Regions from separate parts of the Homo sapiens genome. Here region 2 is linked to region 1. Evidence: fine-mapped QTL for protein levels in blood plasma. A gene starts in region 1. The other region holds a variant in brackets. All regions are shown on one strand. Distances are from middle to middle.

What was found. PIP is the posterior inclusion probability: the model's chance that the variant is causal. The UK Biobank Pharma Proteomics Project read protein levels with antibody pairs (Olink). The fine-mapping took linkage between variants from a reference panel, not from the people measured, so its PIPs are less certain.
Region 2: its variant is fine-mapped to the plasma level of the C1S protein (UK Biobank, PIP above 0.99).

The regions. Positions count from the first base shown.
Region 1 is chr12:7,050,237-7,064,581 of GRCh38, reverse strand. It overlaps C1S (complement C1s), which reads right to left and starts at 3,864. Exons shown (of 12, transcript NM_001734.5): 1 at 3,705-3,864; 2 at 2,665-2,743; 3 at 1,900-2,107; 4 at 1,515-1,692; 5 at 190-315. The coding sequence starts at 2,669. RefSeq lists enhancers at 3,276-3,775, 3,776-4,277.
Region 2 is chr12:7,025,054-7,041,130 of GRCh38, reverse strand. It overlaps the pseudogene RPL37P20 and the pseudogene LOC100419825. Among named protein-coding and RNA genes, the nearest start is that of LPCAT3, 15 kb to the right of the region's middle. The variant T/C (reference allele first, on the strand shown) is at 6,865.

The sequences.
Region 1 (14,345 bases):
AACACCAGTACCCCCAAAACTATTGAAATTATTAAAAATAATACATAAATAAATAAATTCTAAAATAAAAAAGAAGTGCCAAATGAAGGCTTGGCCTAATCGAAGTTGGAAGGGTGGACAAAGCCCTTTCTGAGGCCTCAGCCATTCCAAATCCCAGGGAACATGCAACCCTCTTAACACCAAGCTCACCTCCGCAATTCTTCATGTCATCATGGAGGAAATATTCCGGGGGGCAGGAGCAGAAGTAACCACCAATGAAATTGTTGCAGAAGTGGCTACAAGGGACATCTACAAAATCTGTGCATTCATTTATGTCTACAAAGAGTAGAAAGAGGCTGAGGTCAAGAACAAACACCAAGAAGGGAGAATGAGGTTAAATCCAAAACCATAAGGGTAAGAAAAAGTAGGAAAGGCCTATTGCTTAAAGATCCGTCAAGGGATCACATTTCAGGCTACTATTATTCCATATTACTCTCCTGACATATGATTCCAGAGTTGAGCCCTACCACTACACAGCTATAAGGAAGCTCGGGGGTGTGTGTGTGTAAGTGACATAGCCTCACTCTGTCACCGAGGCTGGAGTGCAGTGGTGGGATCTTGGCTCACTGCAACCTCCACATTTTCAAGCAAGTTCAAACAAGTCTCACGCCTCTACCTCCCGAGGAGCTGGGAACACAAGCACGCACCACCACTATGCCTGGTTAATTTTTCATATTTTTAGTAGAGACAGGGTTTCACCATGTTGGCCAGGCTGGTCTTGAACTCCTGGGCTCCGGTAATCCACCTGCCTCAGCCTCCCAAAGTGCTGGGATTACAGGTGTGAGCTACCATGCCCGGCCTAGGCAGCTCTTAATGTCAGAGATCCTTGACTTTTCTCATGTACAGAGCATTTCAGCTCCAGGAATGACACTCTGCAAGGTAAACATCATGACGATGCCTTCTGCAGGGAGGAATCAGTACATTCATTGCTTTATATGATGTTGGTCCTTCTGTCAAATCTAAACAATAGTTTGGCTTTATGAGATGTCCTAGCTTCATTTTAACCTAGAGAGAGATACAGAAGTACCCAGAATTTGAAGGTTTGAATGCCATATATTGAATGGGTTTAAATACTACACATTCCTTGTGTGATTCTTGGCAAGTTATTAACTTTCCTAGTCCTTATTTTCTTCATCTTTATATGGAGCAAATAATACCTACCTTGAAGGATTAAAGTGACGATTGTGTTAAAATAGGAAAAATCCCCAATCCCCAATACATACCCAGTTTATAGTGGCTCTCAACAAATTGCTGTTTATTATGTACTATGTGTTATTACCATGATCATCATCACCACTAAGATATGATCATGCATTTGAATTTCACAAAAGTGATTTATGGAGCGACCCAGGCCAAGTCAACACTTTTTATAAGAATTACGAACAGAATCCTCATTCAATGTGTTGCTCAGTGGATTTCTCATTTCTAATCTTTTAGCTGGGTCAATAAGGCACATGCAGAAGGGTGAGCCTTACCTGTGGCAACATAGTATGCAGCAAACCCCGTAAAACGCTCTTCATTGGAAAAGTCTGACTTAAAGATCACCTGGAGTTTGTTGTATGGGACTTGGAACTCTTCCACAATTGGAGAGTGGGGATTGTTACTGCTCCTCTGTCCACAGAGCCTCCCTTCTTCAGTGTCTCCTGAGATTATCTAAGAGAAGAGTCACAAAAAAAAAATCTAGGAAAGGGTAATATTTTGGTATGGAGTTAAAAGAAGGGACAGAGAGAATAGAACATTTATGCCACTAGGACTTGACTCCAGTTCACTGTGAGTACAGGTGGCACTCCCTCCCACATCCTTATTCCGCTACCTTAGCCCTAGTCTTCCATCTCTATTCTTTTTGTGCTTATAACATACCTGCACTGAGTCATACGCACAGTTCTCTGACAGCTCAATGTCCAGATGGGTGAAGTAGAGGTGAATCCCATACCCTTCAGGAACTTCTATGTCCCAAGATTTCTCTACCTCACTGGGATATGCCTGAGGATAGTTAGGGGACAGGATCTCCCCATACATGGTAGGCTCAGCATAAACCCATGCCAAAAGTGAAAACAGGACAATGCACCTGAAAAAACAGAGGCATAGATTGGCGGGTGACCAGGCACCAGTAGCCTAGGACAGAACGCGCTATTTGCCAGAGGCAGAAGAAAGGGGGAAGAAGAGAGGCAGTCAATCGGCCATGGGGGAGAATCTTAGGTCGGAATAAAGAAAAGGCCCAGGTCAAACCAAAACCCAGGCTTCAGACAAGAGCCCTTTTTTTTTTTTTTTTGAGACAGGTTCTCACTCTGTCACCCAGGCTGGAGTGCAGTGGTGCGATCTCAGGTCACTGCAGCCTTGACCTCCCGCGCTCAAGTGATTCTACCACCTCAGCCTTTTGAGTAGCAGGGACCACAGGTGACACGCATGACGCTGGGCTAATTTTTTTTTTTTTTAATAGAGACAGGGTCTCCTTATGTTGCCCAGGCTGGTCTCAAAGTCCTGGGCTCAAGCAATCCTCCCGCCTCAGCCTCCCAAAGTGCTGGGGTTACAGGTGTGAGCCATCATGCCTGGCCCTTGAGCGCTTTTCTTGAGAAGATGAAGGGAATGGAGTCTGTGTCATCTCAGGGACCCTTGATCACTTACCACATCTCTGGCGATTTGTCCACCCTGGTGAGCTGCCTGTCTCTTGGTCCTGGCTTTCTGCACCTCCGGACTTTGGAGCCTAAGGGGTGGCAGGCCTGGCTGTATTTGTCTGACAAACACAAGCACCTTCTTTGGTGGTGCGGCGTCACCTGGGGCTCAGTGTCACCTTCAAAGGTATAACACACAGGGCCATATCACCAACATCCCCACATGGCACCGTGCCCCTCACACCCTCCCTAGTTAACTTCGACTAACTTTCTAGACTATAGCTAAATTGTATCCTTCCCTCATTGCTTCTCTAGACTTTCTCCTAATTTTTCTCCAAAGGAATCGAGTACTTTCTCCCAGTTTTCTTCTTCCTCTATTGTCCTCCACCAGCCCCACCCCCGCGGTATCAGTCTCTCTCCTGCCCTCAAGAACGATGCTCCCATTTCCACTCAGGTTTTCAACAGTCTTGGCGCATCATGATCATCCATGTAGGACAGCCCCTCTTCTTTAACCGTGATCACCTCATCTCCTCAAGCAGCCCTGTCTGCTGTTTATCATTGCGTGCATCTCCGCTGATGCTCCCAACGCCCACCGATGGAGGCAGGAGCTTCTTTCACTAGGGGAAGGCAGGGACCCTGGGACAAGCGGTCTGAGAAGGAAGTGCTGCCCCACTGATACAGGGTTGTGCGAGGAAGGAGAAAAGGGACAGCCAAATGACAAGGAACATAAAAACTTCCTACATTCGTTTTCCAGAGTTTGTTTGGAGTTTGTCCCTGCCCCCCACCGCCAACTTACTGAAAATACAAGCTATCTCCCCACAGTTCCTAGTAAAGGGTTGCTAAAATTGCTTTAACCCTGAAAACAGTGGTAGGTAAGGGGGTGAAGTAGGGGTGGATGGGGTGAGCCTAAGAGAAATAGGTTGTCTATATTCTGCCTTTTTTTATGCTGCCTTTGTCAGCCCTCTATCATTGCCCCAAGCCCTCCTACGTGAAGTTTTCTGCCTTTCCTTTTTCCTCCATCAAAGCTCTGCTCCTCGTTTGTAAGGATTTTACCTTCAGAAGCTGGTAGGAGCAAGTGGGTCAGTTCCCTCTCTCCTGCCAGTGGGCATGCTGGGCAACCCCTCTGGCCCCCAGGGACAGCAGCACAGGGCCTTGACGCTCCCTCTGCAGGAACCTCCGGCCAGCCTCCCTGTCCTGGTTCTGTTCATAAGATTCCCTACCCGAGTGTGCATGTCTGAAATTCCCTGATCTAAACAGAGGGGGCTGGGAGACCATGACTTAGGGAAACTCAGCCTTGATCTTGGAGCTCCCTCTGCTTTTGAAACAAGGACAGCGTCCTCCTCCCAGGCCAGAGAGCCCTCTATCCAGGGCTCCAGCGGGGAAAGGAGGAATGGGGAATTTCACCGATTGCTTAATGCTATTTTTCAGCCAAAGGGTGTGTTTCTGAGTTTTCGGGAAAGTCAAGTGATTTCTGGGAAAAGGCGGGGATTGGTACCAGGGGAAATAACCAAACCCAGAAAGTCCAGCCCTCCAAATGTGTGTGAATCATGAATTAAGGGAAAGTAGTTATCAGAAATGTAAGTCATCTCTGCTTTAAAGCAAATGTAATGGTTGATAATGACTTAACACCAAGACCCAAGGTGGTATGGCGTGAGGCTTCCTCTTCATAACATCCCTCCACATCCCTTCCAAACATCGAAATTCTACCCCACAACCAAGCCCCCTTTCAGATCCAACCCAGACTCCCTTATCCATAACCCTTGAAGCCAGGTGTGTTTTGAAATTTTATAGATTTTTTTAGGCTATGTAGTCCATGGACCCAATATTAGGTAACACCTCCTCCTCTCCCTCCCTTTATGGACCAGGATAACCCCCTATTAACAAACATTAAGATTTCTGCAGCTAAACACATTGATCTTACGGTAAATGGATAACTAAAGATTACAAATCACATCAGTTCGGGTCAGGTTTTGCTGCCAAATTGAGTTTTAGTCCCAAACTTGAAAACAAACAAACAAAAAACAATAGCCAGGTATTGTGACACACGCCTGTAGTCCCAGCTACTCAGGAGGCTGAGGCAAGAGGATCACTTGTGCCAGGGAGGTCGAGGCTGCAGAGGGCACCACTGCACTCCAGCCTGGGCAACAGAATGAGATCCCATTACAAAAAAAAGACAGAGACTTTGTTTTCAGAGTCCTTTGGATTTTAGAATTGCAGACAAGGGACTGAGGGGCAGTGCCACTCCACAGAGCCTTCCCTGATCTCAGCTCCCCTTTATGCCCCTTTAGTTGGCTTAGCACTGGGCCTGGAGTCAGAAGATAGGCTCATGTCCCAGCTCTGCTCCTCACCAGTGGTGATGTCTTAGGCTCATCACCTAACTTCCTAGTTTCTTTTTTTTTTTAAACCTGGCTCACTATTGACAGACCTAGTTTCTTCAAATATAAAACAGAAATCCTATCAGTTCTGCCTACCCTACATGACTATCAGATGGACCTAATGAAATAATTCGAGTGAACAAGCTTTGCACACTATGGTACCTAATAAATGTGCATGTTAAAAGGAAGAGAATCATGAGCCCGTAAGGTCTCGGAAGACAGGTGCTGGGTCTGATCCGTCTTGGTATTGTCCGCCATGTCTAGCAGTGTCATGCAGAACACAGATGTGTATGCAACCATCTGTGACTCCCCTGGCTGCCCAGCATTCAAACTGCTTTGCCACATTAGAGGAGTTCCCCATGATATCAGTCTTGGGAACAGAGCCGACCTCCCAAGAAAGAAGACACAGGCACAAGAAGTGTGTCACCCCCACCTCCAGCAGCTCTGGAGCAGGCTAATTTGTAATCACCCGAAGGGTTCTTCCTGCCTGCTGCGTAGACAAAACCAATTCACTGAGACCATGGTATTGCAGTAGAGAAAGAGTTTAACAACACAGAGCTAGCCAAGTGAAAGGATGGGAGTTTATTTCTCAAATCAGTCCCCACAAGAACTCAGAGGCTAGGGTTCTTAAGGAGAATTTGGTGGGCGGTAAGAGCAGAGAATGGGTGCTACTGATTCGTTGGGGATAAAATCATAGGAGTGTAGAAAACAGACCTTGTGCACTAAGTCCACCTCTGGGTGGGGGTCACAGGACCAGTTGAGTCATGAATCATTTCAGAATGCAAAAGTCTGAAAAATATCTCAGAAGACCAATATTTGGTTTTACAATAGTGATGTTATCTATAGGAGCAATTGGGGAAGTCACAGATCTTGTGACCTCTGGCCGCATGACTCCTGAGCAGCAAAGGATTATAGAAAGGCAAGCTAGGGGTCAATGGCTGGTCATCGGTTAGCTACACCCACATCTTAGCAAAATTCAAGCCCCTCCCATAATCCTAATCTTGTGGCCTTTCATTAGTTTTACAAAGGCAGGTCCCTGAGCTAGGAGGGGGTTCATTTTAGGGAGGGACTAATATCATCTTTGCTTCAGAGTTAAACTGTAAACTAAATTCCTCCCATGGTTAGCTTGGCCTATGCCCAGGAATGAGTGAGGACAGCCAGCCTGTGAGGGTAGAGGCAAGATGGAGTCACCCATGCTAGACTTCCCTCACTGTCATCATCTTTGCAAAGGCAGTTTCACATGCACACACGTTCCATTCATCAGAGGCCCAGGCTTTCAATCCAGAGCCAGTAATGCCAGGAAGCAGGGACCCTAGAGCCTGTAGGGACAGTGGTGGCCACAGCAAGATCACAGAGGAGGTAGAGTTCTCAGCAGCACCCAGCATCCAGCCCCAGTGGGTAAGCATTGCAAGCCGAAGCATCCAGGCCATGGTCAAAGAAGTGGCAGCAGCGGCAGCCAGGTTCTGACCATTGTCCCTGCTGGGAAGCTTCCACAATGGCTCTGTAGCTCCCCTGGAATTTCCATGAGCAATCCAGGGTCCCTTTAATAAATTCATCTTCTGCTAAACTCAGCCAGAGTTGGTTTCTACTGCTTGCAACTAAAAATAATGGCTGATACAACACGCTCAGTGAGTATCTGAGGATTGGTTGATTGAATGTGCCAAAGTGAATTCAAACCATTCATTACCTTTCATTTTAGCCGTGTGACCTTGAAAAAGTTACTATGCCTCTCTGAGCTCCAGCTTTATCAGGTGTAAAATGGGAATAATAGCACCTACTTCAGACACAGCTATCACTGTCAGGGCCCATTGTGGCCAAGATTAAACAAAATAACGTATGCTAAGCATTCAGCATATACCTGGTACTCAGTAAGCTTTTAACAAATAACAAACCATATTAACTTCTCCAAACACCAAACACGGCAGCAGTAGCAGCAGCTTCCTCCCCATCAAGAGCATGCTTCAGTTAATACCAAGGAAAAGAGGACGCCTTATCAATGTGTCCAGGGTTCCTTCTCCTTTTCCTTGGAGCTCAACACTGCCCGATCTTGCCAGAAAAGTTAGACTCTCCTATCCTCACCTGTGTTTTATGTTCATTTCTGCAATTTTGCCACGAAATTGAAATACATTGCCAGGAGCAGTGGCTCACACCTGTAATCCCAGCAACTCAGAAGGCTGAGGCGGGAGGATCGCTTGAGGCTGGGAGTTCAAGACCAGCCTAGGCAACATAGGGAGACCTCATCTCTACAAAAAAGTTTAAAAATTAGCCATCCTGTGGTCCCAGCTACTCAGGAGGCTGAGAGGCAGGAGGATTGCTTGAGCCCAGGAGTTCAAGCCTGCAGTGAGCTATGACCACAGCATTGCACTTCAGCCTGGGTGCTCCGTTTCCCACCTCAAATTTCATTGGTCAGGCATAGTGGCTCATGCCAAAGTGCTGTAATCCCAGCACTTTGGTAGACCAAAAAGAGAGGATCACTTGATGCCAGGAGTTCAAGACCAGCCTGGGGAACATAGCAAGATTTCATCTCTACAAAAAGTCAAAAAATTAGTCAGGCATAGTGGCACGCACTTGTAGTCCCAGCTACTCAGGAGGCCAAGGGAGGAGGATAACTTGAGCCCAGGATTTTGAGGCTGCAATGAGCTATGATCACACCACTGCACTCCAGCCTGGGCAACAGAGTGAGACCCTGTCTCAAAAATAAATAAAATAAAATTTCATGCAGCCATGTTATCTAAGTAGCTATCGGAGATCCACAATGAGATTAAATGATGGTATTAAGAAGCTCCAACAAGGGATTGCCAACAATAAAGGTTTTGAACAACAAATAACCCTCCCATTTTCAAATTTGAACAACAAATAACCCTCCCATTAATCAAACTCCAAAATTAAAGTTCAAATCCCATTGCAAACTGAAACTATGACATTAAAGTCAAAAGTAATTGAAGCCCAAAGTGTCTATGTTAAAGTCACAAAACTATCAGTTCCAATTTGTGTTCTGTTTAATCCCAGCTAGTGGGTTTCCAATCCCTGGGCAGAGCTGTGGTCCCTTCCGAAGCTGCGGCCTGGGCTGGAACAGGTTAGTTCCTCCAAGGCTTCAAAGACTGAGTTCTGAGGCAAACCTTCCATGAGTCTGTTTTTAAAATTCCAGAAAGTTAATGAGACACAAGAATATTGCAACACCAGCCCCACAACCACAAAATTTAGAAAATGAGCTATCCCCAGACCCCAAGACAATCATCCCAAGCAAAATTAAAATTGTATTTCCAGAAACCACCACTTAATGTCACCAAAATCTGAAGAAGAAATTCAGTGGTATCTGAGGGCAACAGAAAAGCTTAAGCTTAGTTTAAAACCTTACCTTGAGGCCAGTCGATTTATGCCAGTTGTTCAGAATCCATGTCCTGTGGGCCAGGTGTGGTGGCTCACACCTGTAATACCAATACTTTAGGAGGCCAAAGCAGGAGGGTTGCTTGAGTTCAGGAGTTTGAGATCAGCCTGGGCAACATGGTGAGACCCTATCTCCACAAAAAAAAGAAAGAATGCCAGGCATGCTAGAGCATGTCTGTAGTCCCAGCTACTCAGGAGGCTGAGGTGGGAGGATCACTTGAGCCCTGGAGGTCAAGGCTGCAATGAGCTGTGATCACACCACTGCACTCCAGCCTGGGCAATAGAGTGAGACCCTGTCAAAAAAAAAAGTCTATGTCCTGTGAACTTAAACACCATTGGAAGAAAACATGTAGAAAAAGGTTAATTGGGCATTTTGTACTTGCCATATCGGGATCCTCGTAGGTGGAACTTCTAAATTTGCATCCCCTCCCACCATCTCCTGACCTTGTCCCCATGAGCCCCAAGCTGTGGGCTCTTCAGTGCCTTGTTAGTTGGTGAGCTCTCCCTAGTTAGAACTCTAGCAGCCTCCATGATATTAAAAAGGACAGACATTTCCATCGTGTGCCTCTTTTATGACTTCTGCCACTCCTCTTTTTTGGACTCACTAAGACCTAAAAAGCCTTCTTCCTAAGGAGGGCTTTCCCCACACCCTCATGTTCATTTCAGCTGAAGGCAGCACCCTCAGCAGACTTTTGAACTGAGGTTGTTACTAGGTGTCACTCCCGGGTGGGTGGTCATCCTGTCTTGTTTTCTCTGTTCTCTGTGGGTCGAGTTGTTTTCTTGATGAATGCCAATGCATGTACCTTCTGCTCATTGGGAAGGGCTGTCTGGCCTGGGATTCCAGCACAACCACCACGCCCTTACCTGGCCCCTTTAATCAGAGGCAGCCCAACAGTTAAAGGAGCACCCACGCACAGAGAAAAGAAAGAACCAATGCAGGAACTCCAGCAACTCCAATGGCCAGACTGTCCTATGTCCACCAAACAACCTCACTAGTTCTCCAACAAGGGTTCTTAATGAGGCTGAGTTGGCTGAAATGACAGAAATAGAATTCGGAATATGGATAGGAATGAAGATCATTGAGATTCAGGAGAATGGCAAAACCCAATCCAAGGAAACTAAGAATCACAATAAAATGATGCAGGACCTGACAGATGAAATAACCAGTAAAAAAGAGAACCTAACTGATCTGATAGAGCTGAAAAACACACTACAAGAATTTTACAATGCAGCCGGGCACAGTGGCTCATGCCTGTAATCCCAGCACTTTGGGAGGCTGATGCAGGTGGACCACTTGAGGCCAGGAGTTCAAGACCAGCCTGGCCAAATAGTGAAACGCTTTTTCTACTAAAACTGCAAAAATTAGCTGGGCATGGTGGCATACGCCTGTAATCCCAGCTACTCAAGTGGCTGAGACATGCCAATCATTTGAACCTGGGAGGTAGAGGCTGCAGTGAGCCAAGATCATGCCACTGTACTCCAGTCTGGACAACAGAGTGAGATTTTGTCTCAAAAACAAAATAAAATAAAAAATAAAAGAATTTCACAATGCAATAACAAGTATTAACAGCAGAAGAGACCAAGCTGAGGAAAAAATCGCAGAACTTAAAAATTGGCACTCTGAAATAAGATAGCCAGACAAAAATAAAGAAAAAAGAAGGAAAAGGAATGACAAAACTCCTGAGAAATATGGGATTATGTAAAGAGGCCAAATCTACAAATCACTGGCATCCCCGAAAGGGATGGGGAGAAAGTGAACAACTTGGAAAACATATTTCAGGATATTGTCCATGAAAATTTCCCCGACCTCCCTAGAGAGGTCAACAGTCAAATTCAGGAAATACAGAGAACCCCTGCAATATTCTACACAACGAGATCATCCCCAAGACATATAATCATCAGATTTTCCAAGGTCAAAATGAAAGAATGTTAAAGGCAGCTAGAGAGAAAGGGCAGGTCACCTACAGAGGGAGCCCCATCAAGCTAATAGATTTCAGCAGAAACCCTACAAGCCAGAAGAGATTGGAGGCGTGTATTCAACATTCTTTTTTTTTTTTTTTTTTTTTTTTTTTGAGACGGAGTCTGGCTCTGTCGCCCAGGTTGGAGTGCAGTGGCGCGATCTCGGCTCACTGCAAGCTCCGCCTCCCGGGTTCATGCCATTCTCCTGCCTCAGCCTCCCGAGTAGCTGGGACTACAGGCGCCCACCACTACGCCCGGCTAATTTTTTGTATTTTTAGTAGAGACGGGGTTTCACCATGTTAGCCAGGATGGTCTTGATCTCCTGACCTCGTGATCTGCCCGCCTCGGCCTCCCAAAGTGCTGGGATTACAGGCACAAGCCACTGCGCCCGGCCTCAACATTCTTAAAGAAAAAAAATCTTCAACCAAGAATTTCATATCCAGCCAAACTAAGCTTCCTAAGCAAAGGATAAATAAGATCCTTTTCAGATCAGCAAATGCTGAGAGTTTGTTACCATCAGACCTGCCTTACAAGAGGTCCTGAAGGGAGCACTAAATATGCAAAGGAAAGGCCATTACCAGCCAATACAAAAAGACACTTAAGTATACAGACTAGTGACACTATAAAGCAACCACACAAATAAACCAGCATAATAACCAGCTAACAACACAGGATCAAATCCACACATATCAATAATAACCTTAAATGTAAATGGGCTAAATACCCCCATTTAAAAGGCACAAAGTGACAAGCTGGATAAAAAAGCAAGATCTCATGCTGTCTTCAAGAGATCCATCTCACACACAATGACACCTATAGGCTTGAAATAAAGGGATGCAGAAAAATCTATCAAGCAAATGGAAATCAGAAAAAAATCAGGGATTGTAATTCTAATTTCAGACAAAATATACTTTAAACCAACAACAATCAAAAAAGACCGGGGCATTACATAATGGTAAAGTGTTAAATTCAACCAGAAGATATAACTATCCTAAATATAAATGCACCCAACACAGGAGCACTCAGATTCATAAAGCGAGTTCTTAGAGACCTACAAAGAGACTTAGACTCCCACACAATAATAGTTGGAGGCTTCAACACTCCACTGACAGTATTAGACAGATCATCAAGGCAAGAAATTAACAAAGATATTCAGGACCTGAACTCAGCATTGGACCACATGGATATGATAGAGATCTACAGAACTCTCCACCCGAAAACAACAGACTATGCATTCTTCTCATTGCCACATAGCACATACTCTAAAATTGACCACACAATCAGACACAAAACAATTCTCAGCAAATGGCAAAAAACTGAAATCATAACAAACACACTGTCAGACCACAATGCAATAAAAATAGAAACCAAGACTTTAAAAAATCACTCAAAACCATGGAATCAAACAACCTGCTCCTGAATGACTTTTGGGTAAATAAATAATAAAATTAAGGGAGATGTTAAGAAGTTCTTTAAAACAAATGAGAACAAAGATACCACATACCAGCATCTCTGGGACACAGGTAAGGCAGTGTTAAGAGGGAAACTTACAACACTAAATGCCCACAACAAAATGTTAGAAAGATCTCAAATTAACAACCTAGCATCACAACCAAAAGAACTAGAAAAGAGCAAACCAACCCCAAAGCTAGCAGAGGACAAGAAATAACCAAAATCGAGCTTAACTGAAGGAGATTGAGATACAAAAAACCATTCAAAGATCAACGCATCCAGGAGGGTTTTTTTTTTAAAGTTAATAAGATAGATAGGCTACTAATAAAGAAGAAAAGAGAGAAGATTCAAATAAACACAATTAGAAATAACAAAGGGGATGTTACCATTGACACCGCAGAAATACAAACAACCAGCAAAAAACTACTACCAATATCTCTATACACACAAACTAGAAAACCTAGAAGAGATTAATAAATTCCTGGACACATACACCCTCCCAAGACTAAACCAGGAACAAACTGCCTGAACAGGCCAATAATGAGCTCCAAAATTGAATCAGTAATAAATAGCCTACCAACTACAAAAAAGCTCAGGTCCAGATGGATTTATTGCCAGTTTATACCAGATGTATGAAGACAAGCTAGTACCATTCCTACTGAAACTAACCCAAAAAACTGAGGAGGAGGGACTCCTCCCCAACTCATTCTATGCAATCAGCATCATCCTGATACCAAAACCTGACAGAGACACAAGAAAAAAAGGAAAACTTCAGGCCAATATCCTTGATGAATATCAATGCAAAATCCTCAACAAAATACTTGCAAACTGAATCCAGCAGCACATCAAAAAGCTTATCCACCATGATTAAGTGGGCTTTATCCCTGGGATGCAAGGTTGGTTCAACATACACAAATCAATAAATGTGATTCATCACATAAATAGAACTAAAGACAAAAACCACACGATTATCTCAAAAGATGTAGAAAAGGCTTTTGATAAAATTCAACATCACTTCATGTTAAAAAAAAATCTCTCAATAAACTAGGTATTGAAGGAACATACCTCAAAATAATTAGTCACCTATGACAAACCTACAATCAACAGCATACTGAATGGGCAAAAGTTGGAAGCATTCCCCTTAAAAACCAGCACAAGACAAGGATGCCCTCTATCACCATTCCTATTCAACATAGTATTGGAAGTACTGGCCAGAGCAATCAGGGAAGAGAAAGAAAGAAAGGCCAACCAAATAGGAAGAGAGGAAGTCAAACTATCCCTGTTTGCAGATGATATGATTCTATATCTAGAAAACCCCATAGTCTTGGCCCAAAACCCCTTAAGCTTATAAATAACTTCAGCAAAGTTTCAGGATACACAATCAACATATAAAAATCACCAGCATTCCTATACAAAAACAACAACCTAGCTGAGAACCAAATCAGGAATGCAATCCCATTCATAATTGCCACAAAAAGAACATAATACCTAGGAATATATACAGCTAACCAGGAAGGTGAAAGATCTCTTCAATGAGTATTATAAAATACTGCTCTAAAAAATCAGAGATGACACAGACAAATTGAAAATCATTCCATTCTTGTGGATAGAAAGAATCAATATCATTAAAATGGCCAATACTGCCCAAACCAATTTACAGATTCAATGCTATTCCTGCCAAACTACCAATGACATTCTTCACAGAGTTAGAAAAAACTATTTTAAAATTCATATGGACCCAAAAACAAGCCCAAATAGCCAAGGCAATCCTAAGCAAAAAGAACAAAGCTGGAGGCACCATGTTACCCAACTTCAAACTATACTACAGGGCTACAGTAACCAAAGCAGCATGGTACTGCTACAAAAACAGTCACATAGACCAATGGAACAGAATATAAGGAGAGCCCAGAAATAAGGATGCAAACCTACAACCATCTGATCTTGGACAAAGCTGACAAAATCAAGAATGGCAAAATAACTCCCTATTCAATAAATGGTGCTGGGATAACTAGCTAGCCATATGAAGAAGATTAAAACTGGACCCCTTCCTCACACCATTTACGAAAATCAACTCAAGATGGATTAAAGACTTAAATGTAAAACCCAAAACTGTACAAACCCTGGAAGACAACCTAGGCAATACCATTCTGGACACATGAACTGGGAAAAATTTCATGACAAAGATGCCAAAGGCAATCACAACAAAAGCAAAAATTGACAAATGGGATCTAATTAAACTTAAGAGCTTCTATACAGCAAAAGACAACATCAATAGGGTAAACACATAATCTAAAGAATGGGACAAAAATTTTGCAAACCATGCATCTGACAAAGTTCTAATATCCAACATCTATAAGGAACTTAAATTTACAAGCAATAAACACAACTCCATTAAAAAGTGGGCAAAGGGACATGAACAGAAACTTTTCAAAAGAAGACACACACAGCCAAAGAACTTTAAAAAAAGCTCAATATCACTGATCTTTAGAGAAATGCAAAACAAAACCACAATGAGATACCA
Region 2 (16,077 bases), 24 kb after region 1:
CCAGATATTAAACTTAACTGATGCGATAGATGCCCCCTAGGATGCCACCACTATGTAAAATCGCAGCTCCTCGAATTACCTTTGTTAAATTTCTAGTATCAGAGTCCAAGGAAGCCCCCTGCTGCAACCAGATGCACTTTGAACTCAGTTTATTCAGAAACCATGGTTGGTGGTCATCTTCTACTTGTGTTCTGAGAAACCACAAAATTCAACTTCAGCTCTTCAGTTATGATATTGTCATATTATTTTAGAATGTGAAACATATGCCGTGTGCCCCTCCTTTTATGTAGTGAATACAACCTGCCCCTTATGGTGGTTAACTCCCTGTCACCCCTGGGCTTTCCTCACGTTTAACACTCTGGTTTTCTCCTTCCTGAAGTCCCTGTGGCCCTCTTCAGGGTCCTACCCTCCTCCCCTTTATTCTTTGCAGTTCTGTACAGATTGATGCACTTATATTGCCTTTTCTGATTAAATGTTCCTTAGTCTTTCCTTGATGGAGGGGAGAAGGGAGGACAAAGAAGTTAAATTTTATTTTGGGGCATCAAAACAAATGTCTACTTAGTAACTTTGTAAACTGTAAAGTGATATATATAATTGTGAAGTACTATTAATTTTACCTAATAATTACAGAGTGTTCAACAGTTTAAAAAAAAAAAAAAGAATGCTGGCCAGGTGCAGTGGGTCACGCCTGTAATCCCAGCACTTTGGGAGGCTGAGGCAGGAGGATGGCTTGAGACCAGGAATTCAAGACCAACCTGAGCAACATAATGAGACACTGTCTCTATAAAAAAAAAAGAATAATGTTATAGAAAACCAAACAGAGAAGCCAGGTGCGGTGGCTCAACGCCTGTAATCCCAGCACTTTGGGAGGCCGAGGCAGGCAGATCACGAGGTCAGGAGATCAAGACCATCCTGGCTAACACGGTGAAACCCTGTCTCTACTAAAAATACAAAAAAATTAGCCGGGTGTGGTGGCGGGCGCCTGTAGTCCCAGCTACTCAGGAGGCTGAGGCAGGAGAATGGCGTGAACCTGGGAGGCAGGGCTTGCAGTGAGCCGAGATCGTGCCACTGCACTGCAGCCTGGGCCGGGTGTGGTGGTGCACACCTGTAATCTCAGCTACTCCGGAGCCTGAGGCAGAATTGCTTGAACCAGGGAGGCAGAGATTGCAGGGAGTCAAGATCACGCCATTGCACTCCAGCCTGGGCAACAAGAGCAAGACTCCATCTAAAAAAAAAAAGAAAGAAAAAGAAAGGAAAGAAAGAAAGAGCAAAGAAAAGGTAGGAAAAATCTTTGGGACCTGGGAGTCATTGAGGAATTCTTAACCATGACACCAAAATCAGATCCTTAAAAAGGAAAATTGATAAATCAGACTTCACCAAATTTGAAAAGAAAAAAACCTTTTCTCTGCAAAACCCCCCTTAAGAGGATGTAAAAGATAAGCGATGGACTGGGACAAAATATTTACAAACCACACACACACAAAAGCCTTGCATCTAGAACATGTAAGAACAAGTCGCAGCTGGGAGCAAGACTAAGAGGATGAGCAATGGCAGACTTGCCCGGCTGCAACAATGCTCCACGAGTGAGGGGCCGCTGCTCGCTGGCCCCACACGTCCAAGGCAGCTCTCGTGGCCTCCAGCTAACAGTGCCACCCAGGGTCAAACCGAGGGCAGAAGGCTCAGCCTTATGCTGGAAACCCAACCTTGGCACCTCCCGTGTTCCTTGTGGGAACATCTGCTCCTGCAGAAGGCAGAAAAGGTTGAGGCAGGAAGCTGTGCGGATGGAATTGAGAAAGAAGTAACCGAGAGTGTGCAGTGAAGGGAGGGAGGGAGCCCCCTGCACGGCAAGGTGGTAGCCGAGTACTCCAGAGAAGAGGACCTGGGCTCTGCCCAGTCCTAGAGCGTCAGATGGTGACACTCTGATGCTAAGGCACACTCATTTTATTATTTCTAACGTCAGGGTGCGCCTTATAATCAACAAACCACAAAGGAGATCATAAGCCACACTCACGAGAATTAAGAAGTTAATTGAAAAATATTCCTTGTCCTTGCTCATTGTGGCTCAGCGGGTCAGACTCACCCTGCAAACACAATCACTAGAAAAGGTGCATCTCCAAGGGAAACGCCAACCTTTCCTATCACTCCACGGCCCCAGAGAAAGCCCAAATACAAACACAACCAGGCCCGCCAGGCCTCTCTCCAGTTCCTGACCAGCAACTCTAGATCCCCGGGCGGGGTTCAGCTGCCCTTCCCGACTGCCACTCAGAATAACGAACAAAGCCTGCCGACCCGCCTGAACATGGCAGGGGAACGGCGGTTCCGTCTGTGTAAGACACGCTGCTGCCTCGCAGTGTTTCCGGAATTGGTGAATTTTTGGTCTCACTAACTTCAAGAATGAAGCCGCAGACCGTCGCGGTGAGTGTTACAGCTTTTAAGGTGGTGCGTCTGGAGTCTGTCCCTTCAGATGTTCAGATGTGTTCGGAGTTTTTTCCTCTTGGTGGGTTCGTGGTCTCGCTGGCTCAGGAGTGAAGCTGCAGACCTTCGCGGTGAGTGTCACAGCTCTTAAGACAGCCCGTCTGTAATTACTCGTTTTTCCCTATGGGCTCGTGGTCTGGCTGGGCTCAGGACTGAAGCTACGGATCTTTGCGGTGAGTGTTACAGCTCATAAAAACAGCGTGGACCCAAACAGTAACAAAATTTATTGCGAAGAGCTAAAGAACAAAGCTTTCACAGCGCGGAAAGGAACCCGAGCGGGTTGTCCATACTGGTTTGGGCAGCCTGCTTTTATTCTCTTATCTGGCCCCACCCACATCCTGCTGATTGGTAGAGCCGAGTGGCCTGTTTTGTCAGGGCGCTGATTGGTGCGTTTACAATCCCTGAGCTAGATATGAAGGTTCTCCACGTCCCCATCAGATTAGTTAGATGCAGAGTTTCGACACACAGGTTCTCCAAGGCCCCACCAGAGCAGCTAGATAGAGAGTGTCGATTGGTGCATTCACAAACCTTGAGCTAAACACAGGGTGCTGATTGGTGTGTTTACAAACCTTGAGCTAGATACACAGTGCCGATTGGTGTATTTACAATCCCCGAGCTAGACATAAAGGTTCTCCAAGGCCCCACCAGAGCAGCTAGATACACAGTGTCGATTGGTGCACTCACAAACCTTGAGCTAAACACAGGGTGCTGATTGGTGTATTTACAATCCCTGAGCTAGACATAAAGGCTCTCCACGTCCCCACCAGACTCAGGAGCCCAGCTGGCTTCACCTAGTAGATCCCGCACCGGGGCTGCAGGTGAAGCTGCCTGCCAGTCCCGTGCAGTGCGCTTGCACTCCTCAGCCCTTGGGTGGTCGATGGGACTGGGCGCCGTGGAGCAGGGGGCGGCGCTCGTCGGGGAGGCTCGGGCAGCACAGGAGCCCATGGAGGGGGTGGGAGGCTCAGGCATGGCAGGCTGCAGGTCCCGAGCCCTGCCCCGCGGGAAGGCAGCTAAGGCTCGGTGAGAAATCAAGTGCAGCGCCGGTGGGCTGGCACTGCTGGGGGACCCAGTACACCCTCCGCAGCCACTGGCCCGGGTGCTAAGTCATTGCGCGGGGCCGGCAGGGCTGGCCGGCTGCTCCAAGTGCCGGCCCGCCAAGCCCACGCCCACCTGGAACTCCAGCTGGCCCGCAAGCGCCGCACGCAGTCCGGGTTCCGGCTCGCGCCTCTCCCTCCACACCTCCCTGCAAGCTGAGGGAGTGGGCTCCAGCCTTGGCCAGCCCAGAAAGGGGCTCCCACAGTGCAGTGGTGGGCTGAAGGGCTCCTCAAATGCCGCCAAAGTGGGAGCCCAGGCAGAGGAGGTGCCAAGAGCAAGCGAGGGCTCTGAGGACTGCCAGCACGCTGTCTCCTCTCAGCAGAAGCCTCGGCAGGGCGCTGGGCTGCAGAGTACCGTGCACAACTAGGGCACCTCCCTCCCTCCCCCGCCAACACACACACACACAGCCACAAAAGCACAGCCCCAGGCCAGGAGCACACAACTGCCCTCAAATGCCCTCACCAGCCTCTAAGGGGAGGCCACGTCCACGTGACTTCAAACAACACTAGACTAGGATGCAACCAGGAAGCTGAGTCAGGGCTACACACCTCCTACGCCCCCATCTGTGTCCTCCCCAAACCCAGTCAACACAGGGGCGCACAGGGGCTGGCCGGGACCTTTGGGTATACAGCTGCAACCTCTGGAGGGCGTTTACACCGTGAGCTACGAGTACTTATTGGGGTTCAGCTGGAAGGTGGCTCCCTCTGACCATCTCCCCAGGACACACACGAGCTTTCTGCCATTCTCTCTGACGGGGCAGGCCTGCTTGGCATGGGAAGTCTCTGCAGATAAGGCCTTCTGCAGTGACGTGAGAGCTCAGTGGCCTAGAGGAAGCTAACCTCCAGCACTACCCAGCCACAGAGCAAGGGGCTCTTTTCAAACTGATTTCTTACCCTTCCTAGTGCCTCAAACTAGATCCTGTTCAGACATGTTATAATAAAGTTAGTAAGAATTTATTTTGGGGCCAAAATTTTTTTAATCCATGCATAGTTTTTTTCATAATATGCATTTTTCATACACTTTTTAAGACCCTCTCGTATATGTCGGACTCTAGTCTGAGTCTGAAAGCCTTAGAACCAGGAGATCCAATGGTATAAGTTTTATTCTGACTCTATGGGTCCAAAACCAGAAGAATAATATCTTAGCTCAAAGACAGAGTGTAAATTTTCCCTTACTTGGCCTTTTACTCTAGTCAGCCCTTCCATGGATTGGATGAGCCCCACTCACCCTGGGGAGGACAATCGGCATTACTTAGTTTACCAATTCAAATGTTAATCTCATCCAAAAACACCTTCACAGGTATATCCAGAATAATGTTTAACCAAATATTTTGGCATTCCATGGCCCAGTCAAATTGGCACATAAAATTAACTGTCACAAGTCCACCCCTTGTCAACTTGACACCCAAATGTATCTTCTGAAACCATTCTTATTCTCCAAATAAAAACAATGACAAGGTCATAATTCCACCCAACGTGATACAATCATTCTACATACAACTGAAAAGGCACTACCTCTTCCCCAGAAGAGAAGGCGAAGTCCTTAAATAATGTTTGTTCTTCTCCTTGATATCTCATAACTTAAACACTATGATGTAAAATTTAAAATAGTTAAATACTATGATATAGAGTCAATACATTTTATGTTACAAAACAGGAAGTAAGAGAGGAAAGAAAACAAGGATATTTTATATATATTCATTACAAAACAAGGAGAGTACATCCGAGACCAGCCTGGGCAAAATGGTGATACACCATTTCTATTAATAACAATTAATTTAAAAATTAAAAATAAATTTTAAAAAAACGAGAAGTACTTATGATAATTACAGTCTTCATTTCTGTAAGTGATCATGTGGTCATAGCTGATATTTATAACTGCCTTTTTCCACTACCCATTCTGTATGTCCTTTGCCTTCAGCAAGCACCTCACTCAGCTGGTTGTGGTTCTTTATCTGGTAGAGTGAACCAAACCTTCATTCCTGCAGGGACTGGGCCATTAGTAGTCCTGCCTGGATTGGGCTGTTGTAGTTTTCCATTGACATTAATCACAGGCATGACAATACTAAGAGATGCTCTCAGGGGTCTCCTGTATTCCAGGCATGTTCCTCCTTACCTTCATTGTGAAGAGGCAGTCCAATTTCCCCTTGGTAGACAGGATCAATCACCAACCAGCCCAGTAATTCCCTTCTTTGCCTGTTGATTCAGAGGTATAAGGAGGGTGAAGTGACTGGGTGGCAGTCTTAAGATCCAGTTCAATTGAATCATTGCTGTCTCTTGGTGGGAGAATTATTCCCATTGGAACTAAGACCAGTAGACTGGCATAGCATAAGGTTTCAGAAACAGGAAGCAAAAATCCTGCTAGTGGGTCACTAGAGATAATAGTGAGTGGTGCTGCTCCCTTTTCCACCCCTTGATTCCTGAACCAGTGAATCTTGGCTATGGGAGAAACAGCACCATATGATGGATGCTGATTCAGAGCACATTTAGCCCCCTGGAGAACATATTGCTGCAGCCCTGCAATATATTGCCATCTAGCTGGTGCTGTAACTGCATCTTCAAATAATCCTATCATCTTATCAAGCCCATTGGTTCATGAAACATGGTAAGACCAGTGAATTCCATGAGGATGGGCTCACTGCTACACTTCTTTTGCTGAGAAGTGAGTTCCTAAATCAGAAGCAATGCTGAGTGGAATATCATGACAATGGATAAAGCATTCTATAAGTCCACAAATGGTAATTTTGGCAGAAGCTGTGTATGTAAGGATGGAAAATTGTTATCCAGAGTAAATTTCTGTTCCAATGAGAACAAAATACTGCTTCTTCCAAGATGAAAATAGTCTAATGTAATCAATCTGCCATCAGGTAGCTGGCTGATCATGCTGGGAAATGAGGCCATATCAGGGACTCTGTGTTGGTCTCTGCTGCTGGCAGATAGGGCATTCAGCAGTGGCTGTAGCCAGGTCAGCCTTGGTGAGTGGAAGTCCATGTTACTAAGCCCATGCATAATGTCCATCCTGGCCACCATGGCCACTTTATTCATGAGCCCACTGGGCAACGGCAGGGGTTCCTAGAGAATAAGGCTAACTGGTATCTACAGAATGGGTTATCCAATCAATTTATTATTTTAATAGATAACTTCTGAGATTACCCTCTAGTAAGCATTCACATGGGACACAAATATCTTTATTTTCCCATTCAAGATGTCTATCCATATACCTCTTCCCCAAATTTCCTTGTCACCAATTATCCAATCATGTTCCTTCCAAGTCCCTGATCATCCATCCAAACCA[T/C]TGACCACAGAACATGAATCAGAATATACTTGCACATCTGGTGTCTATCTTTTCAAGAAAAGTGAACGGACTTAAACTGCTTAAACTTCTGCCCACTGGGCCACGTGCATGGTGCAAGCCTGTAATCCCAGCAACTCAGAACGGTGAGGCAGAGGATTGCTTGAGCCCAGGAGCTCAAGACCACCCTACGAACATAGCTGACACTGACCCTATAAATTTTATAAAAGTAACCAAGGAAGAAGATAGGGGATAAATGAAAATTAACCCAGCTTGCAGCACACTCAGCATTGATCAATAGGTCAGCCTGCTCCCTGATCTGCTTCTTCATGGTTGTTTGGTGCCTATTGTCCTAAAATCATGTAGACCTTAAATTATTCCCCTAAACTATCCTATAGATAACACCTAAATATTATGAAACATTAAGATTTCCCTTTGAGCTAGGTGAGGCGGTTTGTGCCTGTCATCCTAGCACTTTGGGAGGCTGAGGTGGAAGGATTGCTTGAGCCCTGGACTTTGAGACCAGCCTGAACAATATAGTGAGACCTTGTCTCTAAAATTAAAAAAATTAAAAAAATAAAAAAAATTCCCTTTGAGATGGTCCTTCAGGTCCTGCATTCTGAGGAAACTATTCAGCTGAGAACCCCATGGCCACCAGCTGATCTGAAAGATTCCACTGACTAACTTGGTCTGAAGGGTCCCACTAACTCAACTGGTCTGAAGAATGCCATTCATTCAACTGGTCTAAAGGACCCACTGACTCCAGTGGATCTGAAGGACCCTACTGATACTAGCTGATCTGAAGGATCCCACTGACACCAGCTGATCTGAAGGACCCCACTGACACCAACTGATCTGAAAGATCCCACCGACTAAGCTAGTCTGAAGGGACCCACTGACTCAGCTGATCTGAAGAACCCCACTGACTTAGCTGATCTGAAGAACCCCACTGACTTAGCTGATCTGAAGGACCCAATTGATACCAGCTGATCTGAAGGACGCCACTGACTTCAGCTGATCTGAAGAACCCCACTGACACCAGTTGATTGGAACGATCCCACTGACTCAGCTAGTCTGAAAGATCCCACTGACTCAGCTGATCTGAAGGACTCCTCTGACTCCAGCTGATCTGAAGGACTCCACTGACTCCAGCTGATCTGAAGGACCCCACAGACACCAGCTGATCTGAAGAACCCCACTGACTTGACTGGTCTAATAGACCCCAGTAACTGAGCTGGTCTGAAGGACCCAACTGACAGCAGCTGATCTAAAGGACCCCACTGACACCAGCTGATCTGAAGGACCCCAGCTGGTCTGACTCAGCTGGTCTGAAAGACCCAATTGATACCAGCTGATCTGAAGGACCCCACTGACTCAACTAATCTGAAGAACCCCATAATGCCAGCTGATCTGAAGGGACCCACTGACACTAGCTGGTCTAAAGGACCCCACCGACACCAGCTGGTCTGAAGGACCCCATGAGGAGCTGACTCACCAAAGAATGCAGTTTCCACGTCCTGATTATTTTATCTCTCTTGTGCTGCCCAATCAACGATCCCAATTCTCCAGCCTCTCATCCTCCACAATCCCCTTAAAAACCCCAGCTCAGAACTCCTAGAGGACATGAAGTTGAGAATCTCCTCCCAGCTCCGCATCTGGCTGCCCATGATAATTAAATGTTTTCTCTTCTGCATCCCTGCTGTCTCACTGTAATTGGTCTATTACTGTGCAGGAGGCATATGAACCTGTTGGTCATGTAACAAAGTGAGATCCCATCTCTTTTTATTTCTTTTTTAGATTTTGTTAAACCATGGCATTTATTGACAAATAATAATAGTGACAATAATAGTGAAAAATCATTGAAATTCTTCAGATAAACTAGTTGCTGCAATAGCTGCTCTCTTGGGTTTAGGTGGTGTTCCTCCACAGAATCCATGCTTGAATCTGTGGTATACAATTTTCAGGTGCTTCATGCAATCAGTCCTGGTGGTATTTTGTCTTTTAGCCTTTGCACTCCAGTTACACTTTCTCTTGCACTTGGCAGGGTAGTCATAGTTGTCACAAGTAGACTTCTGAAGGTGCTAGGCCTTAGAGCCATGGCAGTGGCACAACATGTGTGTCTTATTGCAATGCTTTCAAAACAATGACGTTCCCTTCATCATCTCACTTCTGCAGGCTAGACCAAAGAGACTGGAGACCTTGTCTCTTAATAAAAAATTTAAAAATATAAGTTATGTCCACTGAGAGTGCTTTCCTTCATCACTGTCCTTCAGGGATGTCACAGAAAGGGGCTGTAGTGCTGCAGCACTCTTGGGTGGTGCATATGTTCATGCAGAACCAGGCCTAAGTCTTCCCTTCTGTCAACTGATCACAGGCAACTCCCCATTAAGTCACAGGGGCAATCTAGGAGACAAATGTAGTGTAGCAGTGATGGTGGCATTGGCCTGTCTGGAGCAGCCACTGTGGGAATGCTAGCTGCAGTGGGAAAGGTGAGTCCAGGGCTGCGCACACTGTGAAGCCAGTGGGGGCTAGAAACATGCAGGAGCCCCGCCCCCTACTGAGTTGGCAGGGCAGGAGCCCTGGACTCCTGGGTGCAGCTACAGCCACCCAGCCATGGCTCTGGACCAGGGCATCCCTGTCCTCTCAGTGGGCCAGGAAGCCACTATGCTCCTTCAGGCTCAGAAGTGTCTGCTCTTGCTCCCTGGCCTCTCCCCTCTCCCAGCACACGCTCCAATTTTGGAGCAAAGTTGAAGCTGAGCCTGGTGTTGTCACAACCCTGTGGGTGTGCACATGATCAGGGCACCACCAACGTGCCAGCCCCTCCTGCTTCAGTTCTCTCCAGACTTTTGGGCACCAGTGAGCACAGGAGGGAGACCAAGGTGGGGGCGCCAAGGGAAGCTCGGTACAGGCCTCCGGGCACCCCTTGGTACAAATAGCCTGGGTGGCACGTTGATGGTGGCAGGAGGCAGACAGGCTCCTGGGTGAAAAGGGGTGGGTCTCTGATGAAACCCCACCTTCAGGCCAGGGATGTCCTGAAGCCAGGCTGCCAGTTCTGGGTGGAGTCCATGCCCTGGAGTGAGAACTTATGGTGCTTTTTCCAGGCCCACCCATAGCCACCCATGGACAAATCAGCACATATTTCCTCCCTTCTGAGCCCATAAAACCTGGACTCAGCCAGATGTGAATAGGTGTTGGGACTACCAGTTGCAGAAAGGGGCTACCCACTACAGGTCTCCTTTCTGCTGAGAGCTGGACAGCCATTGGGCCAACCTACCTGCAGAAAGGAGCTACCCACCATGGGTCTCCTCTCCACTGAGAGCTGGACACTCATCAGGATGACCCACCCACCTGTGGAAAGGAGCTACCCACTACAGGTCTCCTGAGAGCTGTTCTATCACTCAATGAAGCTCCTCTCCACCTTGCTCACCCTCCAGTTGTCTGCATACCTCATTTTTCCTGGATGCGGGACAAGAACTCAGGACCTGCTGAATGGTGGGACTGAAAGGGCTGTAACACAAAGAGGCCTGAAACATGGTCCCCTGCTTGCCACATTGTGGGTGACAAGAAGGAGAGAAGAGCTGTGGGGCCCTCCAGGGAGCCCAGACCTAGGGGCTCCATGAGCCAGGGCTGTGACACCCTCTTTGGGGCTCTACGGTTCCTGGCGTCTCCAAGCTTCTGGGCACCACCATGTTCCCCTTGTCCAGACACGTGTGGTATAGCTGGTCCAGCTGCAGCCTTGCATGGAGCCAGCATCTAAAGCTGCCACCTGCCCTGCCGCAGCAACCTGCATGCCTGACTGTGTGCAGTGGCTAGACCCCACACTCACTCGCTCACATACCCCTTGCCACTCTGCACCTGGCTCACCCTTGGCAGGTGTGGGATCCGGGCCAGTAGTGTGAGCTGACCACAACCTGCCAGGCCAAGTGGGCAGAACAAGCCCAGTGGGCATGAGCAGTACTCGGGCAGAAGGCACCACCAGCCACAGAGGTTTCCAGTGGGCAAAGTGACACCCCAAGGATCCCGTGACAACAGGAGGCGCGACAGTGGACATTTGGGCCACTTCTTTTTTTTTTTTTTTGAGACAGAGTTTCACTCTTGTTCCCCAGGCTGGGGTGCAATGGTGCGATCTCGGCTCACCAAAACCTCCGCCTCCCGGGTTCAAGCGATTCTCCTGCCTCAGTCTCTCGAGTAGCTGGGATTACAGGCATGCGCCACCACGCCCGGCTAATTTTGTATTTTTAGTAGAGATGGGGTTTCTCCATGTTGGTCAGGCTGGTCTCTAACTCCCAACCTCAGGTGATCCACCCACCTCGGCCTCCCAAAATGCTGGGATTACAGGCGTGAGCCACCGCGCCCGGCCTGCCACTTCTTCATGTAACTTACTTGTGCCTTCATAGCCTGCTCAGCCCAACTGAAGTATATACCACTTCCATTTGATGATGGAGTTCTGCTGTGTATGCCCAACTTTATGGTTTGGTGGGTCAGGCAACACTCAGCTCATGATGGGCAGCTCAGGTTGCATAGTAACTTGGCGGCCCATGGGTAAGTGTTCAGTCTCTATGGAGACTCAGTATCAGGCTGAGAGCTGTTTCTTTTTCTTTTTTTTTTTCCTGCAGTTTAAATTCAGTAAGAGGCCGGGTGCGGTGGCTCACGCCTGTAATCCCAGCACTTTGGGAGGCCGAGGTGGGCGGATCACAAGGTCAGGAGATCGAGACCATCCTGGCTAACACGGTGAAACCTCATCTCTACTGAAAATACAAAAAAAAAAAAAAAATTAGCTGGGCGTGGTGGCGGGCGCCTGTAGTCCCAGCTACTTGGGAGGCTGAGGCAGGAGAATGGCATGAACCCAAGAAGCAGAGCTTGCAGTGAGCCAAGATCGCACCACTGCACTCCAGCCTGGGTGATAGAGCGAGACTCCGTCTTAAAATAAAAATAAAATTAAATAAATAAATAAATAAATAAATTCAGTAAGAGTCGTGTCTTAAAAGCAGAGTAGGCTGGGTGCAGTGGCTCATGCCTGCAATCCCAGCACTTTGGATGGATGAGGCAGGTGGATTATTTGAGCCCAGGAGTTCAAGACCAGCCTGGGCAACATGGCAAAACCCCATCTCTACTAAAAAAAAAAAAAAAAAAAAAAAAAAAATTAACTTAGCATGATAGTGCACGCCTGTAGTCCCAGCTCCTCAATGGGGGGCTGAGGCAGGAGGATCACCTATACCTTGGGAGGTTGAGGCTGCAGTGAACTATGATCACACCACTGCACTCTAGCCTGGAGGACACAGTGAGACTCTGTCTCAAAAAAAAAAAAAAAAAAAAAAAAGCAGAGTAATTATCCACCAAGGCTGGCAGGGCTTTGCTCCAAATCCTAACGATTTGCATTGAGATTCACCTATAGGGGCCTGCCAAAGGCTCCAAACAATATCCCTTTCTCCACTGACACTTCAAGCATCACTGGGTCTGCTAGATCACACGGCCCAAGTGATACAGCAGCTTGCACAGCAGCCTGGACCTGTTGCAAAGCCTTCTCTTGTTCTGGGCTCCCCTAAAAGCTAGCAGCTTTTTGGGTCACTCAGTAAATGGGCTGGAGTGACACACCCAAATGAGGAATATGTTATCTCCAAGATCCAAAGATCACTAGGTGTTGTGCCTCTCTTGGTTGTTGGAGGGGCCAGATGCAACAACTTATCCTTCACTATAGAAGGGATCTCTCAACATGACCCACACCATTGGACCCCTACAAATTTCACTAAAGTAGAGATCCTTAATTTTTTGTCAGATTTATTTCCCACTCTCTGATACACAAATTTCTTATGAATAAGTCTAGAATAGGCTGGGCGTGGTGGCTCACGCCTGTAATCCCAGCACTTTGGGAGGCCAAGGTGGGCAGACCACAAGGTCAGGAGTTCAAGATCAGGCTGGCCAATATGGTGAAACCCCATCTCTACTAAAAATACAAAAATTAGCCGGGCGTGGTGGCGGGCGCCTGTAGTCCCAGTTACTCAGGAGGCTGAGGCAGAAGAATCGCTTGAACCCGGGAGCGGAGGTTGCAGTGAGCCAAGATCGCACCACTGCACTCCAGCCTGGGCGACAAAGCGAGCCACCATCTCAAAAAAAAAAAAAAAGTCTAGAATAGTTGCCACTTCTTGGTCTAGAATAGTTGCCACTTCTTGGTCTAGAATAGTTGCCACTTCTTGGTCTAGAATAGTTGCCACTTCTTGTTCACTAGGTCTGATCAGCATAATGTCATCAGTGTAATGGTGATTGCAATTGGCAATCAATGTGATATCTTGTGGAAGGGAAAGGTAATCAAGATCCCAGAAAACTAAATTATGACATAGAGCTGGGGAGTTGGACAGGCATGGTGGCTTATGCCTATACTCCTAGCACTTTGGGAGTCTGAGCCAGGAGGATCACTTGAGCCCAGGAGTTCAAGACCAGACTGGGCAATATAATGAGACCCCATCTCTACAAAAATAAAAATTAGCCAGGTGTGGTGGTGCATGGTAGTGTATGTCTATAGTCCCAGTTACTCAAGAGGCTGAGGTGGGAGGATCACTTGAGCCCAGGAGGTCAAGACTACAGTGAACCATGATTGTATCACTCCAGTCATGGAGAACCATGATTGTATCACTCCAGTCATGGAGAACCATGATTGTACTCCGGCCTGAGTGACAGAGCAAGACCCTGTCTCAAAAAAAAAAAAAATGAGCTGGAGAGTTGATATACCTCTAAGGTAGGACAGTGAAGGTTTATTTCTGGCTTTGCTGGCTGAACTGAAACTGCTTCCAGTAATTTTTGCTAACAAATATCAAGAAAAAAAGCGGCCAGACATGGTGGCTCACACCTGTAATCCCAGCATTTTGGGAGGCCGAGGCGAGTGGATCACCTGAGGTCAGGAGTTCGAGACCAGCCTGACCAACATGGAGGAACCCTGTCTCTACTAAAAATAGAAAATTAGCTAGGCATGGTGGCACATGCCTGTAATTCCAGCTACTCAGGAGGCTGAAGCAGGAAAATCACTTGAACCTGTGAGGCAGAGGTTGCAGTGAGCCGAGATGTGCCATTGCACTCCATCCTGGGCAACAAGAGGGAAACTCCATCTCAAAAAAAAAAAAAAAACAGACACCAAGTCCAGAAATTAAAGCTATTCAACTCCTCAGGTCCAGAGGCTATTGCAGAAGAGGTGGGCACATGAGATTGTAAGGGCTGCTTTTGAAAGATAAAACAAGTTCAGTTTCTCTATAAATTAATCATGAATGTCAAAGACACACTGATGCAAGACTAGCATATGGGCCCCTGTGTCAGATTAACAAGGTTTTCTTGAAGCATTAACTGACTCCTCAATAAATGTTATAAAGGTTGTAAAAGGCTCATGGAAGTTATATTTTATGGTCAAGATTAAAATTTTATAGATGGTTTATAAAATTTTGAAAACCAAATTTAATTGGCTTCATGCTGTTTTTATTAAGGCTTATCATTTGGAAAATTGTCTCCCCTCTCAAAGAATGAAGGTTTTTACCTTTTTTTTTTTTTTTAATCCTTCAGTTATCACTTTGGTTAAATGTATGACTTATTTTACAATGACCTGTGATCCTATTTTGATATCAAGTGTTGTAAAGCTTTGATATTTGACAAACTTTCCAAAATCAAATGATAAATTATGTCTTTTTCTGACCTAATTATTCCTTTAAGATATTAGTTTCCCTAAATTCTAAAAATGACATAATTTGGTTTATTTGTTACAAAAATGATACAAGAAGCATTGTCAAATATAAAATGGTGTTTGGTTTTCTTTGGACTGTATTTGTATAAATATGATATTGGTATGTGTTCCAAAATTATGGGAAACTCCTGTAATTCTGATATGACTTGGTGTACATTATCAGTAATAATCAAAATCATTATGTTAAAATTATTGTGTACCACAGAAGTAACAAATTTCCTTGTCAATGTGTCTTTGACTATGGCTGCCCTAAAACTTTTTGTCTTCTAGGGACAATTGTAATGTTTTGGTCCTCTTTAGAAGGTGGTTTTATAATCAGCTATAAAACTCTACAGGTGCTCTTGAATGCAGGTTTTTTTATAACTTTGGAGATTGTGACATTGGAATAGAGGAATAACTTTTGGGACTAATGGGGAGCTAAAATGTTCATGAATATCAAGCAGAACAGGAATTAACTGCATGGACTGAACTAATCTTTTTGACTTTTTGTTTAAAATATTGCTGAGGCCGGGCCGGTGGCTCACACCTATAATCCCAGCACTCTGGGAGGCTGAGGAGGGTGGATCACGAGGTCAGGAGATCGAGACCATCCTGGCTAACGCGGTGAAACCCCATCTCTACTAAAAATACAAAAAATTAGCCAGGCGTGGTGGCAGGCGCCTATAGTCCCAGCTACTCAGGAGGCTGCGGCAGGAGAATGGCGTGAACCCGGGAGGCAGAGCTTGCAGTGAGCGGAGATCGCGCCATTGCACTCCAGCCTGGGCGACAGAGCAAGACTCCATCTCAAAAAATAAATAAATAAATAAATAAATACATACATAAAACATTGCTGATCCTGGCCAGGCATGGTGGCTCATGCCCATAATCCCAGCACTTCAGGAGGCTGAGGCAGGTGGATCACCTGAGGTCAGTTGAAGACCAGCCTGGCCAACATGGTGAAATCCCATCTCTACTGAAAATGCAAAAATTAGCCAGGCATGGTGGCAGGTGCCTGTAATCCCAGCTACTTGGGAGGCTGAGGCAGGAGAATTGCTTGAATCCAGGACGCGGAGGATGCAGTGAGCTGAGATTGCACCACTGCACTCCAGCCTGGGTGACAGAGTGAGACTCTCTCAAAAAAAGAAAGAAAGAAAAGAAAAGGGGGTAAATGTGAAAGGAAAATCTTAGGGCCCCAAAATTACTAAGCTAATGAGAAAAGTCAAGTTGGGAACTGCTCAGGGCAAACCTGCCTCCCATTCTATTCAAAGTCATTCCTCTGCTCATGGAGATAGATGCGTATCTGATTGCCTCTTTTGGTAAGGCTTACCATAAACTCAAAAGAATGCAACCATTTGTCTCTTACCTATCTGTGACCTGGAAGCCCTCTCCCTGCTTTGAGCTATCCCCACGTTTCTGGACAGAACCAATGTACTTCTTATATATATTGGTTCTCATGTCTCCCTAAGATGTATAAAACCAAGCTGTGCCCTGACCACGTTGGGCACATGTCGTCA